2 linked regions of the Homo sapiens genome follow. The main gene of each other region encodes a partner of the protein of the gene in region 2 in a complex. Each region holds a gene or a part of one and is shown on either strand. Other genes may lie near its edges. The genes, in order: CINP and AIRIM.

Evidence for each region.
Region 1: the proteins of AIRIM (region 2) and CINP are in contact, whole or in part, in a cryo-EM structure (PDB 8RHN), measured with the Homo sapiens proteins. Residues at the interface, in NP_001289959.1 of Homo sapiens: Leu107, Gln110, Ala113, Ala114, Asn116, Leu117, Phe119, Val122, Ala124, Leu125, Phe128, Pro129, Asp130, Leu131, Arg134, Leu135, Lys138, Gln139, Ala142; in NP_116019.1 of Homo sapiens: Leu161, Leu162, Thr165, Glu169, Asp177, Leu178, Leu180, Ser181, Tyr182, Ser184, Met185, His188, Pro190, Tyr191, Val192, Glu193, Ser194.

Annotation. Positions count from the first base shown.
Region 1 is NC_000014.9:102,359,757-102,367,743, forward strand, and holds the start of CINP (cyclin-dependent kinase 2-interacting protein), read right to left. Parts: upstream 3,135-7,987; 5' UTR 3,096-3,134; coding exon 3,089-3,095; intron 1-3,088. UniProt on the Homo sapiens protein: Component of the DNA replication complex, which interacts with two kinases, CDK2 and CDC7, thereby providing a functional and physical link between CDK2 and CDC7 during firing of the origins of replication.
Region 2 is NC_000001.11:37,687,475-37,694,947, forward strand, and holds the start of AIRIM (AFG2-interacting ribosome maturation factor), read right to left. Parts: upstream 3,056-7,473; 5' UTR 2,925-3,055; coding exon of another isoform or gene 2,742-2,924; 5' UTR 2,528-2,741; intron 2,413-2,527; coding exon of another isoform or gene 2,407-2,412; coding exon 2,132-2,406; intron 1-2,131. Other genes in the region: CDCA8 (borealin), read left to right, coding at 5,217-5,310, 5,431-5,559. UniProt on the Homo sapiens protein: Part of the 55LCC heterohexameric ATPase complex which is chromatin-associated and promotes replisome proteostasis to maintain replication fork progression and genome stability.

The sequences.
Region 1 (7,987 bases), on a different chromosome or scaffold from region 2:
AGACAATATAGAATATTTTTAACATTTTAAAATTCACCAGATAGAGCTGAATCCTCTTCCAGCTTAATGGCTCCACAAAGTTTTTACCTTAAGCCCTTTGTTTTCCAAAGATTGGAAATAAGGTAAAGTTGTGACTGTCTGCTAAAACTCTTCAATGGCTCACGTTCCCTTCCCTACAGGATAATCTAGCCCTGACTCCCGAGTACTTCCACTATCTAGTCTCAGGCACTCTGATACTTTAAATTTGCTCAGAGTAGCGTGGCCCATGAGTGCTAATCATTTCAAGACACTGAGACAACAGAGATGCAGAGTTGATCACGATGCTGCCACTGCCCTTCTTGGTAATCAGGAGGAAGTCCAAAATCCTTCCAGACCTAGCTACCCCTCCACATCATCACGTACATCAACCCACACCTTGGCCCCCCGTCAATATCCAGCGAAAATGAACTACTGGCAGCTCTTGAAAAGCTGAGGTGCCTGCAGGCCTTTACACGTGTTCTCTCTGCAGGAAAGCTCCTTCCTTCCTCAGGCTCACGATGCCCATCCTCCAAGATGCACCCGGATCCCACTGCCTGTAGGAAGCAACCCCCAGACCACCAAGAGCCAACTCAGGTTGTTTGTTCTCCCCGAACCCTCCTGTGCCCTCTTGCCTTCTCTACTTTGAACCCCACAAAGGCTTCTCACTGCCCACAGGATAAAGTCCTCTTGAGGAATCCAGGACACACAACAGCTGGATGGTTTGATGCCTCAAGTCAGAAGACCACACTGCCTGCGTCTGAACCCCAGCTCGCCAGCTGTGAGATCTTGGGCAACTTAATGTACCTTTCAGAGCCTCAACATTTTCATCTGTAAAATGGGAATAAAAATAGTATCTATTTCATAGGATTGCTGAGATTAGATAATATATGTGAAGCTGTGAGGCCTCGCACAAGGCAAAAACCCAGTATCTCACCTGTTAGCTCAAGGGCCTCTACTATCCAAGCTCTGCCCACCACTTCAGCTTCTACCCTTTCCCACTTGCCCTCTGTGCATCAGAGCTGGCTCTGTACAAGTTCTGACTTTGACCTGGAATATTTTTCCTATCTGTGTGTGTCCCCACTCCCCTGCCTCATACTTAGTATCCTCACTTTAAAATATCATCTTGATTTATCATTCATTCTTTACTTAAACAACAAATATTTGCTTACTGCCTACAATACGCCAGGCATGGGGGAATGAAGTGATTGAATGAGACGGACCAGGACCGTTTTCATGGAACTTACTTTCCAAAGGGGAGGCAGATAATAAACAAATGACCACGATCAGTTCAGATCATGATTAAGTGTGTGTGGAAAATAAAACAGGGTCTTGTGTTAGTGTGATCCCCTGAGAAGGTGTCGTTTAGGCTGAGATTTGAATGATGAAAAGCCAGAAATAGGGTAGGTCAGTAGTATGTGCCCTAATTATGATAATGAGGTTGGTGAGTTCAAAAAACAGAAAACAAAACAAAACAAACAAGCAAACAAAAAAACCAGTGTGCTGGAATGAAATAGACAGAAAAGGACTAGTGCGTGAGTAGGTGATCAGACAACTAGAACCTAATAGGCCAAGATAAGAAGTTGGACCGAGGGCAGTGGCTCACGCCTGTAATCCCAGCACTTCAGGAGGCCAAGGCGGGCGGATCACGAGGTCAGGAGATCGAGACCATCCTGGCTAACACAGTGAAACCTCATCTCTACTAAAAAAATACAAAAAATCAGCCGGGCGTGGTGGCGGGCGCCTGTAGTCCCAGCTACTCAGGAGGCTGAGGCAGGAGAATGGCGTGAACCCGGGAGGCGGAACTTGCAGTGAGCCCAGATCGCGCCACTGCACTCCAGCCTGGGTGACAGAGCGAGACTCCGTCTCAAAAACAAAACAAAACAAAACAAAACAAAACAAAATAAAAAAATGAAGTTTGGACTTCTAAGTATTAGCTTGGTGCAAAAGTAACAGATTTTGCCATTACTTTTAACAGCCAAAATTGCCATTACTTTTGCACCAACCTAATACAATGGGGAGTGAGCAATGAGCTCTGGATAGGGCAGTGAAATTATCTGATTTAGGTTTTTAGAAAGTCATTTCCACAGAGAAGTATTCCTGGATCCCCCAGGTTGGGTTACGACTCACCACTAGATATGTGGTACACCCTATAATTCTGCTATCATGATATTCACCAGTGGAGTGTATTTGCTTGTTTAATGTCTATATTCCCTGCTAAACTGGAAATTCGACTAGGGTAGGAACTATGTCTCGTTCTCTTTCAAACCTTCCACACATAGGAGGCTTTGCATAAAATGAGGTAAATGGAGGAATAGCTCTTACCACCTGTTCTATAATTGTCTAAGGGTTTTCCCCCCAACAGGAGATTCTGAGGGCAGGATCACATCTGATTCATGGTCAGCCTGACTCATACGGGGCACATATTTAGGAACCAAAAACATAACTGACTTCAAGAAACTCAAGGGCTGGTAAAGACAGACCAGTCATCAGCGTCACAGGACAGGGTAGGGTGAGGGCACAGTGGCTAAGTTACTTATCCCCTCTGAGCCTCGATTCCCCATCTGCAAAATGGGGTTGACATTACTTCATGGGACCACTGTGAGGTTCAAATGAGATGATCCACTTAAAGTGCTTGGAGCAGTACTCAGCAAACTGAGCACTAGGCGAAAGCCAGCTTTCATTACAAGCAGAATGTTCTGACTGAGGGCAGTTCAGAGAGGAGTTTCTGGACGAGATGAGCATGCAAGGCTTGGTACCCAGTGAACTCTGTTAGTACTAATTTATAGTGACAATAATTACAATTTGGATGTCGGATCTGCTGACACTCATTTGCGTATATCGTCCCGTTCATCTGTCACTGCACATGTGAAAAAACGGAGGCTCGGCAAAACTGTCTCCCGAGCAGCTCGCAGAGGCTGCGAGGGGCCTGCGGGCTAGGCTGGGGTAAGACAGAGGACCTCCATTTAACCTCATGTAATCCGGGGAGCTCCTGAGCTTCTGGTCCAACCTGCGGCCTAAGCAGTAACATTCACAGCCACCCCACCCCGGGAAAGGAACCGATCTCACGCACCTTCCATAAGGTCCACAGATATCCGTAGAAGGAGACGCGAAGCCCCGCCCACCCCACCGGAAACGCATTTGCGTCACGTCCGCCCCGCCCGCTGCCACTTGTGGCTCTGCCGCTCTAGCCCCCGGCGGAGCCAGCTGCTGCTCTTCGGTGCTGGCCCCGGTGCCGGCCCCGTTGCCCAGGGAACAGGCTCCCGGCAGCCCCCGCGGCCCGGAGTCCATCCCGCCTCCTCCGGCCCGGCGGGGCCGACGAGTCCGGAGGGGCTGCCGCGGGAGGTGAGTCCGGCGACGCCGCAAGCGGCCCCGACGCCCCCGACGCCCCCGACGCCTGGCCCCGAGCCCCTCCTCGGCCTCCCCCGGGCCACTCTTCCCTTGCCTCAGCCCCGCAGGGTCTCCATGCCCGTCCGCCCCGTCTCCCTCGCCCGCGGTCTCGCCCGCGCGGAGTGGCGGACACTAAATGCCACAACACACGGAGCGCCTGGCTCGCCGCCCGCAGAATCCGGCGGTCCGCAGCGGGGAACAGGGGCCGCCCGCCCCTCCTCAGGCCTCCGCTGCGCGTCCCGCGCCCTCGGCCCCCGGCCCCACCCTGCATCCCGGCTGCCGGTCTGGCCGCGGGCTCTGCTCCTTCGCCTTAAGATTGACGTCGTGTTCTGTCCCCCACTCGCAGCCCGCGTCCCTTACATCCGCCCACCGGCGCCTGGCCCCAGGCCTTGACACTCATCCAGTTGGTGTTCAGTGTTCGATGAGTGGATAAGTGAATGACTCCTTTCCCAATCCTATTTGAAGGCATGGGAGGCAGAATAGGTAGTAAGTGTTAAAGGATGGGGTGTCCTGGAGTCAGAGCCGGGCAGGTCCCAGCGGCCCCTTCCTAGCTCTGTGCTGGGGCAAGTGCCCTACCTCACTCCGCTCCAGTTTCATCACCAGTGGAATGGAGATGAGAATAGTTTCTACCTCTGGCTTGGTAAGAGGATTAAATGGGTCAGTGCATGTAAAGTTAAGCACGGTGCCTGCCGCTGTACATTTCAGTAAAGGGGAGCCCCTGCTGTCATCTGTGCTAGCCTGCGTTCTCGCCCTCTAGTCCCTTCTGATATGTCTCTGACTTCTCATGACTTTAGTTTCTCCTTCTCTACCTCCATTTCTCTTCCCTGCACTTTTTTCTTCCTCTCTTATTGGGATTCAGGAATTTTATTCTGTTCTGTGACTTATGTTCCATGTGTTGGCAGAATGTGGGATACCAGCCTGGGTGCATCCTTTTCTCATCTATTGGAGTGACCAGTTGCACTTGTGGACTGCCTCCTTGCAGCCAAGGTCTTGTAGACAGAGTTCTGGGAAATCTCAAAACGCAAATCCCAGGCATAGGTAGAATCTGGGAATGAAGCCACTGTAGCTCCTTGTGATCACCAGCGATTCCTGGTCTTTTAGGCTGCAGGACTTTGTGTTTTCTCACACCCAGCTATAATGTACCTTGATAAACCTCTGACCTTATTTTTGTTGTTGTTGTTGTTAACCTGACTTACGTCCCATATTGGTGGTTATTTGGCCATCGTGTGCCAGCACTGTGCCAGGCTGGCTCTAGGGATGCTGTGGTGAACCAGACAGACCCTTCCTGAGGTCACTGCCTCAGAAAGATCATGGTCTGGCCCATGAACTTTAAAAGGGAGAACTAAGTGCAGGTGTAGGGGACACACAAATTGAATTTTCAGGACTGCCTTGGAAAACCAGTGGTGGGGAAGATGGAATGAGGATAACCCTCTTCTGAAGGAGTGACTAGGAAGTAGCTTTTGTTAGGCATCAGCTATATTATACCCACGTGTCTTTTTCAATAGAAGACTGGCATCTACTGGATTTTTTTTTCCAATTTTTTCTTAAAGAAGTTACACTTAAGTTTGGGGAGAATTTCATTTCATATTAGCCGCTGTAGGAGTTGAAAAAAATGGCTACTGGAACTTAGTGGGAAGAAAAGGAAGGAAACAGGCATCAGGCAGAGGCAGTTGATTGAACTTGGGAAGATGAGGAATAGATCAGGAAAGGGTTATAATGAAAAGCTTTGGTGTCAAGCACGAAGAGATTTCTAGATTCAGTAATGCACAGAGAGATCAGTAAAATTAGAAGGGAGTAGTTGATGGCTTTGCGAATTGCTAAGGTAGAAGGGAGCTGTTACTCAAGATGCATGTTCAATTTAAAATGAATGTATTCTTTGGACCTGGACATAAGAGTTCTATTGACTTTTTGCCACTATTTTATATTTAGGGCTGTCATACTTGGGTGAATCTAGCACAGTGCTTTGAGAGAGAGATTCATTCAACAAACGTGTATTGAGCATTGATTGTACCATACTCTTTATTGGTCTTTTAAAGCACCACAAAGTATACAGACTAGAAGAACATAGGTGAAGATGAGAAAGAGTCCATTGAAGGGGAGAGAAAACAGATAATGATGGTGCTGTGCGATAACTGCCATCATGGAGTTCTGTGAAAGCAGAGAAAGACCAACCAAGTATCTGAGGGAATTTATGAAGGCTTCCTGGTGGCGGAGGACTAGTTCTTACAGGGCACATGTGGGGGAATAGGGAAGAGTGGAAAGGGACTTTGTTCTGCAGAGACATACAGGTTATGGTGTGTGCAGGGACTGTGATGGAAAGCTGATGGATGCACAAACAAAACGTGGCCTGTCTACACAATGGAAGGCTGTTCAGCAATAAAAAGGAACGAAGTACTGATTTGTGCTACAACATGGAGGAACCTTGAGAACATTAGGCTAAGTGAAAGCAACCAGACACAAAATACCACATATTATATGATTCAATTTTGATGAAATCTCCAGAATAGGCGAACTGTAGACAGAGAGGAGATCAGTGGTTGCCCAGGGCTGAGAGAAGAAGCGTGTAGAGGGGTGATTGCTAAAGGGTAGGGAGTGCACAGTGTGTGGATGGAAGAGTGGCCTGAGATGAAGTTAGATATAGACTGTTTTGTCATAGTGTCTAATTTCCATGCTTGTGTTAGGCTTTAGCTTGTGACCATTGGGTAGCCAATGGGGATGGGAGCAAGGAAGTGACAAAATTTTGTCTGGAAGATAAATGACTGCCTCAGTCTCATTACGTTCCTCCTTAATAATTTAATACTCAAATAATTAATAGATGTCGTAGCCAGATTTCAAACATAGATTCTACAATAGGGATACAAATTGTTGCTTCCTAGGGATTTTGGAGAGAATCCTGAAACCATTAGTGTACCCAGAGCACTCTGATAACATGGTTATTGTACAGCGAAGTGGATGACTTAGACTCTATATTAGTCCTAGCTCCAGTTTGAGAAATCATCCATCTGGGTGGCAGTTGGGTGTTAGTAGTCAGCAGTGAAGGCTAGCTGCCACCTTCCAGGGTTATGAGATTGACAGGGCTAGTGGGGAAAGGAAGCATCGTAACTTGAAGGATGCCATAGGGTGGTGTTTTGTATTTTTTTAACTGAAATAGTCATGACTAAGGAAGCATTATTCATTATATTTTTATTTATTTATTTATTTTTGAGATGAAATATCACTCTGTCACCCAGGCTGGAGTGCAGTGGCACGATCTTGGTTCACTGCAGCCTCCACCTCCCAGGTTCAAGTGATTCTCCTGCCTCAGCCTCCCAAGTAGCTGGGATTACAGGTGTGCGCCACCACACCTGGCTAATTTTTGTATTTTTTAGTAGAGATGGGTTTCGCCATGTTGGCCAGACTGGTCTCGAACTCCTGGCCTCAAGCAATCCTCCCACCTCGGCCTCCCAAAGTGCTGGGATTACAGGCGTGAGCCATCATGCCCAGCCCAATTTTAAAAATTGGATTGAGACTATTGTTTTGCAGTAAGACCTGAAGTTAACAAATCTTTACTGAGCATCTACTCTGTGCCAAAGCTATTATTAGATACTAGGATTTACCTTGGTAAGCAAGAGAGAATTCATGTTGCTTACATTCTTGTAGGAGAGATGATTTTTAAATGGTTTAGCAAATAAAGCAATTAGAGGTTGTAATGAGGATTATGAAGCACATATGATAGAGGAAAGAAGGGACAGTTGGGTACTCTTGAGTGATCTGGTCAGAGAAGGCCTTTCTGTGGTGGTGATATTTAAGCTGAGACCCCACAGTTGAGAAGAAGCCAGATAAATGGAGTGAGATCATTTATTCTGCATAGAGGAAATAATTATGACACCTGAGTGGGACAGAGTGGGTCAGTGGAGCTAGAACTTGGAGGACAAGTGGAGACGGGTAGAGAGGTGACAGGGGAGCTGCAAAGGGCTTAGACCACACGGGGCATTTGGTTTTTATTCTTAGAGCACTGGGCAACCAGTGAGGAGTTTTGAGTAGAATGGGTAGTATGGTCTGATTTCTCTTTGAAGGAGCTGATATTTTCCTTTGTTTTTTGGGGGGTAACAGCTTTATTGAGATATAATTTACATGCCACACAGTTCACCCATTTATATACAATTCAATGGTTTTTACTGTATTCACAGCTATGCAACCGTCACTACGTCAATTTTAGAACTTTCTCATCACCCTAAAAGGAAACTCCGTACCCTTCAGCAATACACCCTAACCCCTTCTTCTCCCAGCCCTGGGCAACCACTGACCTACTCTGCCTACAGCTTGCCTATTCTAGACATTTTGTATACATGGAATCATATAATATATGGTGTTTTGTGCCTGGTTGCTTTCACTTAGCATAATATTCTCAGGATTCCTCCGTGTTGTAGCATGAATCAGTACTTCATTCCTTTTTATTGCTGAACAGGCTTCCATTGTGTGGATAGATCACATTTTGTTTGTCCATTCATCAGTTGATGGACAGTTAGGTTGTTTTGACATTTTGGCTATTATGAGTGGTGATATTATGAACATTTATCTACAAATTCTTTGTAGATATGTT
Region 2 (7,473 bases):
GGTGCAGTGGCATGCCTGTAATCCCAGTAGTTTGGGAGGGCAAGGCCAGAGGACAGCTTGAAGCCAGGAATTTGAGACCAGCCTGGGCAATATGGCAAGACTATCTCCACAAAAAATTTTAAAAATTAGCTAGGTATGGTGGCATGCTCTTGGAATCCCAGCTACTCAGGAGGCTGGCAGGAGGAGTTAGAGGCTACAGTAAGCTATGATCATACCGCTGCACTTCAGCCTGGGCAACAGGGTGAGACTGTCTCTAAAAATAAAATAAAAATAAATAAAAGACAAAATATTAAGTAAAGCACTCATAGGTACTCACAGCACTCCTGGGTTCAAATGATCCTCTTGTCCTTAGCCTCTCAAAGTGCTGGGATTACAGGAGTGAGGCACCGTACCTGGCCTCATCTTTTTTTTGTTTTGCTTTCCTTTTCATGGAGAATGGGATCTCACTATGTTGCCCAGGCTGGTCTCAAACTTCTAGGCTCAAGCGATCCTCCTGCCTCAGCCTCCCTAAGTGCTGGGATTACAGGCTGAGCTGCCATACCCAGCTGATCTCATCTCTTACCAGGCCTCTGCTCCTGTCATACTTTTCTCTCTTTTTTTGAGACAGAGTCTTGCTCTGTCACCCAGGCTGGAGTGCAGTGGGACAGTCTTGGCTCACTGCAACCTCTGCCTCCCAGGTCCAAGAGATTCTCCTGCCTCAGCCTCCCCTTTAGCTGGGACTACAGGTGTGTGCCACGACAGCCAGTTAACTTTTTTTATTTTTAGTAGAGATGGTGTTTCACCATGTTGGCCAGGCTGGTCTCGAACTCCTGACCTCAAGTGATCTGCCTCCCAAAGTGCTGGGATTACAGCCATAAGCCACCGTGCCGGGCCAGTCATACTATTCTCTATGCACACTACTCATACCCACGTCTTGACTCTGTTTACATCTTTTCAACCATTAGGTTTTTAATATCACTTCCTCCCCAGAAACTTCCCCACTCCACACAAGCCGTACTTATCAATATCTTAGGACATCCCACAATTTAATTCACTGATTGTTTATTTCTTCTACTCAACTAAGAACAGGAACTAAATCTGGTTCATTTTTATATTCTTGGCACCTTGTGCTTGGCATCCCACAAGGTGCCTAATGAACGTATTTTGTACAAATAAATAAAAGGAAAGTCCTCATCTGTGACAGTTTCCTATTAGTCTATGACAGACTCTATATACTGGAACTTTCTTTTGTTCCAGTTCAAGGAAAGGCCACACATGCCCTGTCTCCCCTCTGTCCTCAATAACCTGTAACTCTCAGCCTGGGCAACATAGTGAGACCCTATCTCTACAAAAAATTTTAAAATTAGCTGGGCATGGAAGTGCACGCTTGTTGTCCCAGGTACTTGGGGGGCTGAGGTGGGAGGATCGCTTGAACCAGGGAAATCGAGGCTACAATGAGCTGTGATTGTGCCACTGCACTCCAGCCTGAGTGACAGAGCAAGACCCTGTCTCAAAAAAAAAAAAAAAAAAAAATCTGTAACGCAGGCACTGGGTCTGACAACAAGCATATCAGAACTTGGAGACGTGCTACTCCTGGGCACAGAGACACCAATCTACAGCAGAACAAAGTGGTGATTAAGAGCTCTAGCCTTTGTGTCAGGCACACTTGAGTTAGAATCCCAGCTCTACCCTTTTCTAGCTGCGTCACCATGGGCAATCTGCTTAAGCTTCAGTTTCCTACCTGCATAGAATTAAGTGCAGTTAAGTCACAGATATGTTGAAGAGACTTTATAACGTAATATACATAAACCCCTTAGCTCTAGCACCTACTAAGTTTACACAGCTCCTCACTGCCTTTTACCAAAGAAAACTATAGGGCAGAGCTAATAGGCTTTCTCCGCTCCTTTTCTCTTCTTCTTTTGTGACTTCTACTAAGCCCACCACTGCCATGCCTAGTCTCTGACAAAGAAAATGCCAGAAAATGGCTTTCTGACCGAGGTCCCACTGCCCCAGATGAAGTAAGGAAGGTTGAGATACCTCCACATGCCACGCTTTCAAGGAGAAAAACACCTTCTGGACTGACACTAGCTACATATAAAACACCTCGTTTTAAAATCCTTCCACCAAGAAACAGCACTAGGGAGCTGCTTACAGCCTTTCCCCTAGCTTGTCCAGGACGATGTCACCAGCCACCAGCTGCTTACGCCTCAGCCGCTCTTTTAAATCTGGGAAGGCCCGAAGCGCCGGCACATCCTCAAACCGCAGGTTCTGTGCGGCCTGCAGCTGTTCCGCCAGGTTGCTGAGGGAGGACAGGAGGGGCTGGCAGTCCCGCAGGGCACTCTGCCACAGGCCCTGCTGCTCCTCCACCACGGGGAAGCACTTCTTCAGCGCCTCCTGCACGGCAAGCAGAGGCCGGTCTTGAGTCATCTTCTGCTGAAAAAGATAAAAACAGAAAATAACCACGTTGGGGTGCCAAGTCAGTCGGGGAGGCACTGGGTCGAGGGTGGGCGTCATCTCTGTTATCGTGTTCAGACAGGAGTTGTCTCACCTCCAGAAGCAGGGTTTTTTTTTTGTTTTTTTTTCGAGACGGAGTCTCACTGTCGCCCAGGCTGGAGTGCAGTGGCGCTATCTCGGCTCACTGCAACCTCCGCATCCCGGGTTCAAGCAATTCTCCTGCCTCAGCCTCCCGAGTAGCTGGGAATACAGGTGCCCGCCAACACGCCTGGCTAATTTTTGTATTTTTAGTAGACGGGGTTCCTGACCTCAGGTGATCCGCCCGCCTCGGTCTTCCAAAGTGCTGGGATTACAGGCGTGAGCCACCGCGCCCGGCCTGCCTCAGCTTTCTGAAGGAGACCCTGGTTTCCCCTCGGGAAGGGTAACCTGGATAGGGCAGTCTCCTGCTTCAGAGGATTCCTGGCGTCCAAGCGCCGTCTCTTCTCTGACATACAGTCCTGTCTCCCCTGCCCGAGGCTGCCGGTCGCCTTCCTGAAAAAGCGGAAAAACTTAAAAGTCCAGACAGCCAAAGCGTGAGAACCCTCCAGGGACTGCACCACGCGCCCACAGTCTCTCTGCGCATGCTCACACGCGACCTCCCCACAAAGCTACTCCGCGGGCCTGCCTGGCTACTGAGTCGCGAAAATATATCGTAGTGCCGCAATGACTTCTGGGTACTGTAGTCCAACATGTGGACTGGCCACTCGGCTTGAAGCTTCCTTGGGATTGGATGTTGGGACCGTCCAAACACGGCGACTTCTCATTTGTCAGCCTGCGGCAGTTTAAATTGGGTGGCGGTGGTGGCATGTCCTGTTAGCTGTGGAGTCTTTTCCTCTTATCTTGCGCCTCCGGTTGTGCCTTAATGACACTTTTGACATTGTGTATCACAACCAACTGGCAAAAACTAGTAAATCACGGGCTCCTGACGTGGCAGCTCTGGCTAAAATGCAGGTGGACGTCCTAGGTGCCCAGGGAGTTCGGGCTCACTGGGGAGTAGGGTGAAGGAAACCCTGAAACCGAGAGGCTGGAAGCCCGACTTGCGCAGCATAAAAACACCTGCAGGGGGAAAGCCTACATGAGGTACGGGTTGTCATCCCGTCTCATCTTGGCCATCTGACTGATGGAGATCCTCAGGCACCCAGCAGACTGGGGTGTCACCCCCACTACCCACTGCCCAGGGCTGACCTCGGGCGGAAGAGCGACATTCAAATATTTGTTGCATATGGAGCAACAGACCAGGGTGGAAGAGAGAGAAAGGACTTTCCAGGAAGGTCCAGGCTTGCCAGGACTTCTATGCTTGGACTGCTCTGTCCCCAAGCTCGCTGGTGCCCATCAGGAGCCTGCTTGGCACCTTTGCTTATTTCTTCGATTGTTCCTCAACTCAGAGGGGGAGAGGCAAGATTATCACTCCCATAGCCTATAACATGCACGCTTAAACACAACCCCTCTGACATGGCTTCAGACCGCATCCACAGGTGAAAAGCACCAAATCCAAACAATCAGGCCACAAACCCGTCAAGAGCTCGCCGGTCTGGCCGTCCAGTCGCCGCCCGCCTTGAGACTCAGCCTGAGCTACAGCTTCGAAACTAGCCTCTAGCCTTCTGGGTCTCAGCACAACTCTTGAGCAATCCAACCCTGTGGCCGTGGGCAGATACCAAGATGCACAGTTAGCACCTCCGACAGGACCGCGGCTCGGCGGGGCTCGCCGTCTACACGCCCATTCCCAGGCCCACGGCCACGACACCCAGAGCTGCCTCCTGCCCTGGGCTCCCTGGAGCCTGGTGGCCGCGGCTCATGCTGCAGTCACCGTGTGGCCAGCTGCCAAGCGCCACTACTTGCACCTGAAGTCGCAGCCCCGCGCTGCGCACCCAGTCGAGGCGCCAACACGCGAACTGGGCGGGAGTGGCCGGCCCGCGGGGGAGCGAGGAACGACAGGGTTCCCCCCACTCGCTGCCCAGACTGGCCGCGGGATAGCGCGCCCCCCCCAAAGCCTGCACCCCTGCCCTGCTCCTCTATCATTCCGTCCCCCTTGCTCTGTCAAACCCTGCCGGGGCTGCTCTGTCTCTGCCGACCCGCCACTTGCCCGAAGTTCGGCCTGAGGAGCTTGGGGCCCTGAGGAGCGCCGACGTAGGCAGCCAGCCAGTCAATCAGTCAGAGGGTCACGGCGGCCCCTCGGCTACTCAGTGGCAGCCAGGCCAGAAAGAAGCAGCCGCCAACCCTGGAGCAGAATCCTACAGCCGACCTGACCTAGTAGGCCCCCAGCCCTCCAGAGCTTGGGGTATTGCAGAGCCGCCACAAGGCCTGCCGGGAGTAGTAGTTTGTATAGTTCGCAGCCGGCCAGGGCGGAGCCGGGTGGGTTGGTGGGGAGGGCGGGGAAACAAGCCTGGACCACAACTCCCAGGAGTACCCGCGACGGCGGCGGCCTCGCTGTCGCACTCAGGCTATAGGGGGCGCATTGGGCGGAAGACCCTGGGCCGGCAGGAACTTGCTTGTGATTGGATGTTGTGGGACGGCGGCTTCTCATTCGTCAGCCTGTGACTGTGGAGTTTGAATTGGGTGGCGGTTGACTGTAGAGCCGCTCTCTCTCACTGGCACAGCGAGGTTTTGCTCAGCCCTTGTCTCGGGACCGCAGGTACGTGCCTGGCGACTTCTTCGGGTGGTCCCCGTCCGCCCTCCTCGTCCCTACCCAGTTTCTTGCTTCCCTGCCCCATCTCCGCCGCTCCCCGCAGCCTCCGCCGAGCGCCATGGCTCCTAGGAAGGGCAGTAGTCGGGTGGCCAAGACCAACTCCTTACGGAGGCGGAAGCTCGCCTCCTTTCTGAAAGACTTCGACCGTGAAGGTAAGGGGCCAGGCCGTCGCGGCCTCCTGGGGCGGTCGCGGGATGCTGGCGGGTGGGGACACGAGCTGCACAGATTCGCCCGCCCGTGACCCGTGTCCTGTCGGCTCTGCCCTCCCGCAGTGGAAATACGAATCAAGCAAATTGAGTCAGACAGGCAGAACCTCCTCAAGGAGGTGGATAACCTCTACAACATCGAGATCCTGCGGCTCCCCAAGGCTCTGCGCGAGATGAACTGGCTTGACTACTTCGGTAAGAGCTGGAGAGCTTCCCTGGGCGGAGGCCAGGAGCCCCTTGGGGTTAGGTGACACCCTTCAGAAAGGGCTCGCTCAGATGTCACCTTTTAATGAGATCTGACATGACCACTTATGGAAAATTGCAGACCCTTTCACTCTCTGTCTCACTTCCCTACTTCATTTTTCTCTATGAAAAATGGGGGGGTGGTTGGGGGGCGGCGGGCGGGGCGGTCTCTGTCGGACAACTCAGCTCTGCTGTTTACAGGTCCAAAACAGCTGTAGTGAATGGGCATGGATGGGCTGTATTCCAATAAAATTTTAGTTATGGATACACTGAAATGTGAATTTCACATAATTTTCACACATCAGGAAATTTATTTAATTTTTTTTAAACAGAGTCTCACTCTGTCACCCAGGCTGGAGTGCAGTGCAGTGCAGTGGTGCGATCCCTGCTCACTGCAACCTCCACCTTCTGGGTTCAAGTGATTCTCCTGCCTCAGCCTCTGGAGTGGCTGGGATTACGGTCGCCTGCCACCATGCCCCGCTGATTTTTGTATTTTCAGTAGAGACGGGGTTTCACCATGTTGGCCAGGCTGGTCTCGAACTCCTGACCTCAAGTGATCCACCTACATAGGCCTCCCAAAGTGCTGGGATTACAGGAGTCAGCCACTGCGCCCGGCCAGAAAATAGTATTTTTAAAAATATATGTATATTTTACCCATTTAAAAATGAATGAATAAATGACATGGTTAGTTAACCAGAGCTCAGATAGAAGAATAACCCGAAGCAGCTCCTTCTGCAGCTTATGGAAATTGCTAACCTAAAAATGGGCGCATCAGGCTGGGCGTGGTGGCTCACGCCTGTAATCCCAGCACTTTGGGAGGCTGAGGCGGGCAGATGACCTGAGGTCAGGAGTTCGAGACCAGCCTGACCAACATGGAGAAACCCTGTCTCTACTAAAAATACAAAAAAGTTAGCCGGGCGTGGTGGCGCATACCTCTAATCCCAGCTACTCTGGAGGCTGAGGCAGGACAATCGCTTGAACCTGGGAGGCAGAGGTTGCGGTGAGCTGAGAGCACGCCATTGCACTCCAGCCTGGGCAACAAGAGTGAAACTCCGTCTCAAAAAAAAAGACACATCAGTTTTCCTGGCCAGAGAAAAATCCCAGCCTGTTTCTGCACTCCCTTATTAAATGTCCGGAGAAATGCAGGAGGCTGTACTTTTCTGCTGGGTTGCCCTTTTCTGTTTTCCTTATTATTAACTATCCAGCATGTAGTCTCCTTCCTGGATAGAAATGCATGGTCTGCTCACATATTAGACATTGAATGATCCTTTTGACTTGCCCTTTTATTTATTAAGCCATTCATTTGCTTATTTCTCCAAATACTGAGCATGTGTCAGTCACAGTGCTAGGTGCTAAAGATGCACTAGGGAATAAAACAGACATTGTCTCTGCCTTCAGGAACATACAGATTAGTAGAAAAGAGCTATTAGAAAAATCCACATACAATTATGTAATTAAAAGTATAGGTACTACAAAGGAGATAGAATAGAGTAGTGGTCAGTGAGCATATTGTGCTTTCTATGCCAGATGGGCATTGTACCAAGTGTTTTACATACATTAACTAATTTTTCTTCATAACTAATAATATCCCTATTTTTCAAAATGACAAGATTAAGGCACAGAGAAATTGGACACTTTGCTCAAGGCCTCATAAGCTAGTTAGTGGGATAGTCTGTTTGAACCCAGGTATTCTGGTTTCATAGCCTGAGATCTTAACTGTTTTACAAGATACTATGAGAGTTTCTAGCAGGAGGTTCTAACCTAACTTTTTATTCTACATGTAAATCTCACAAAGACCTTTTCATTCAACACGTTTACTGTACATCTATTGACTGCTAGATTTTTGCCAGAAGCAAAGGATGTCAT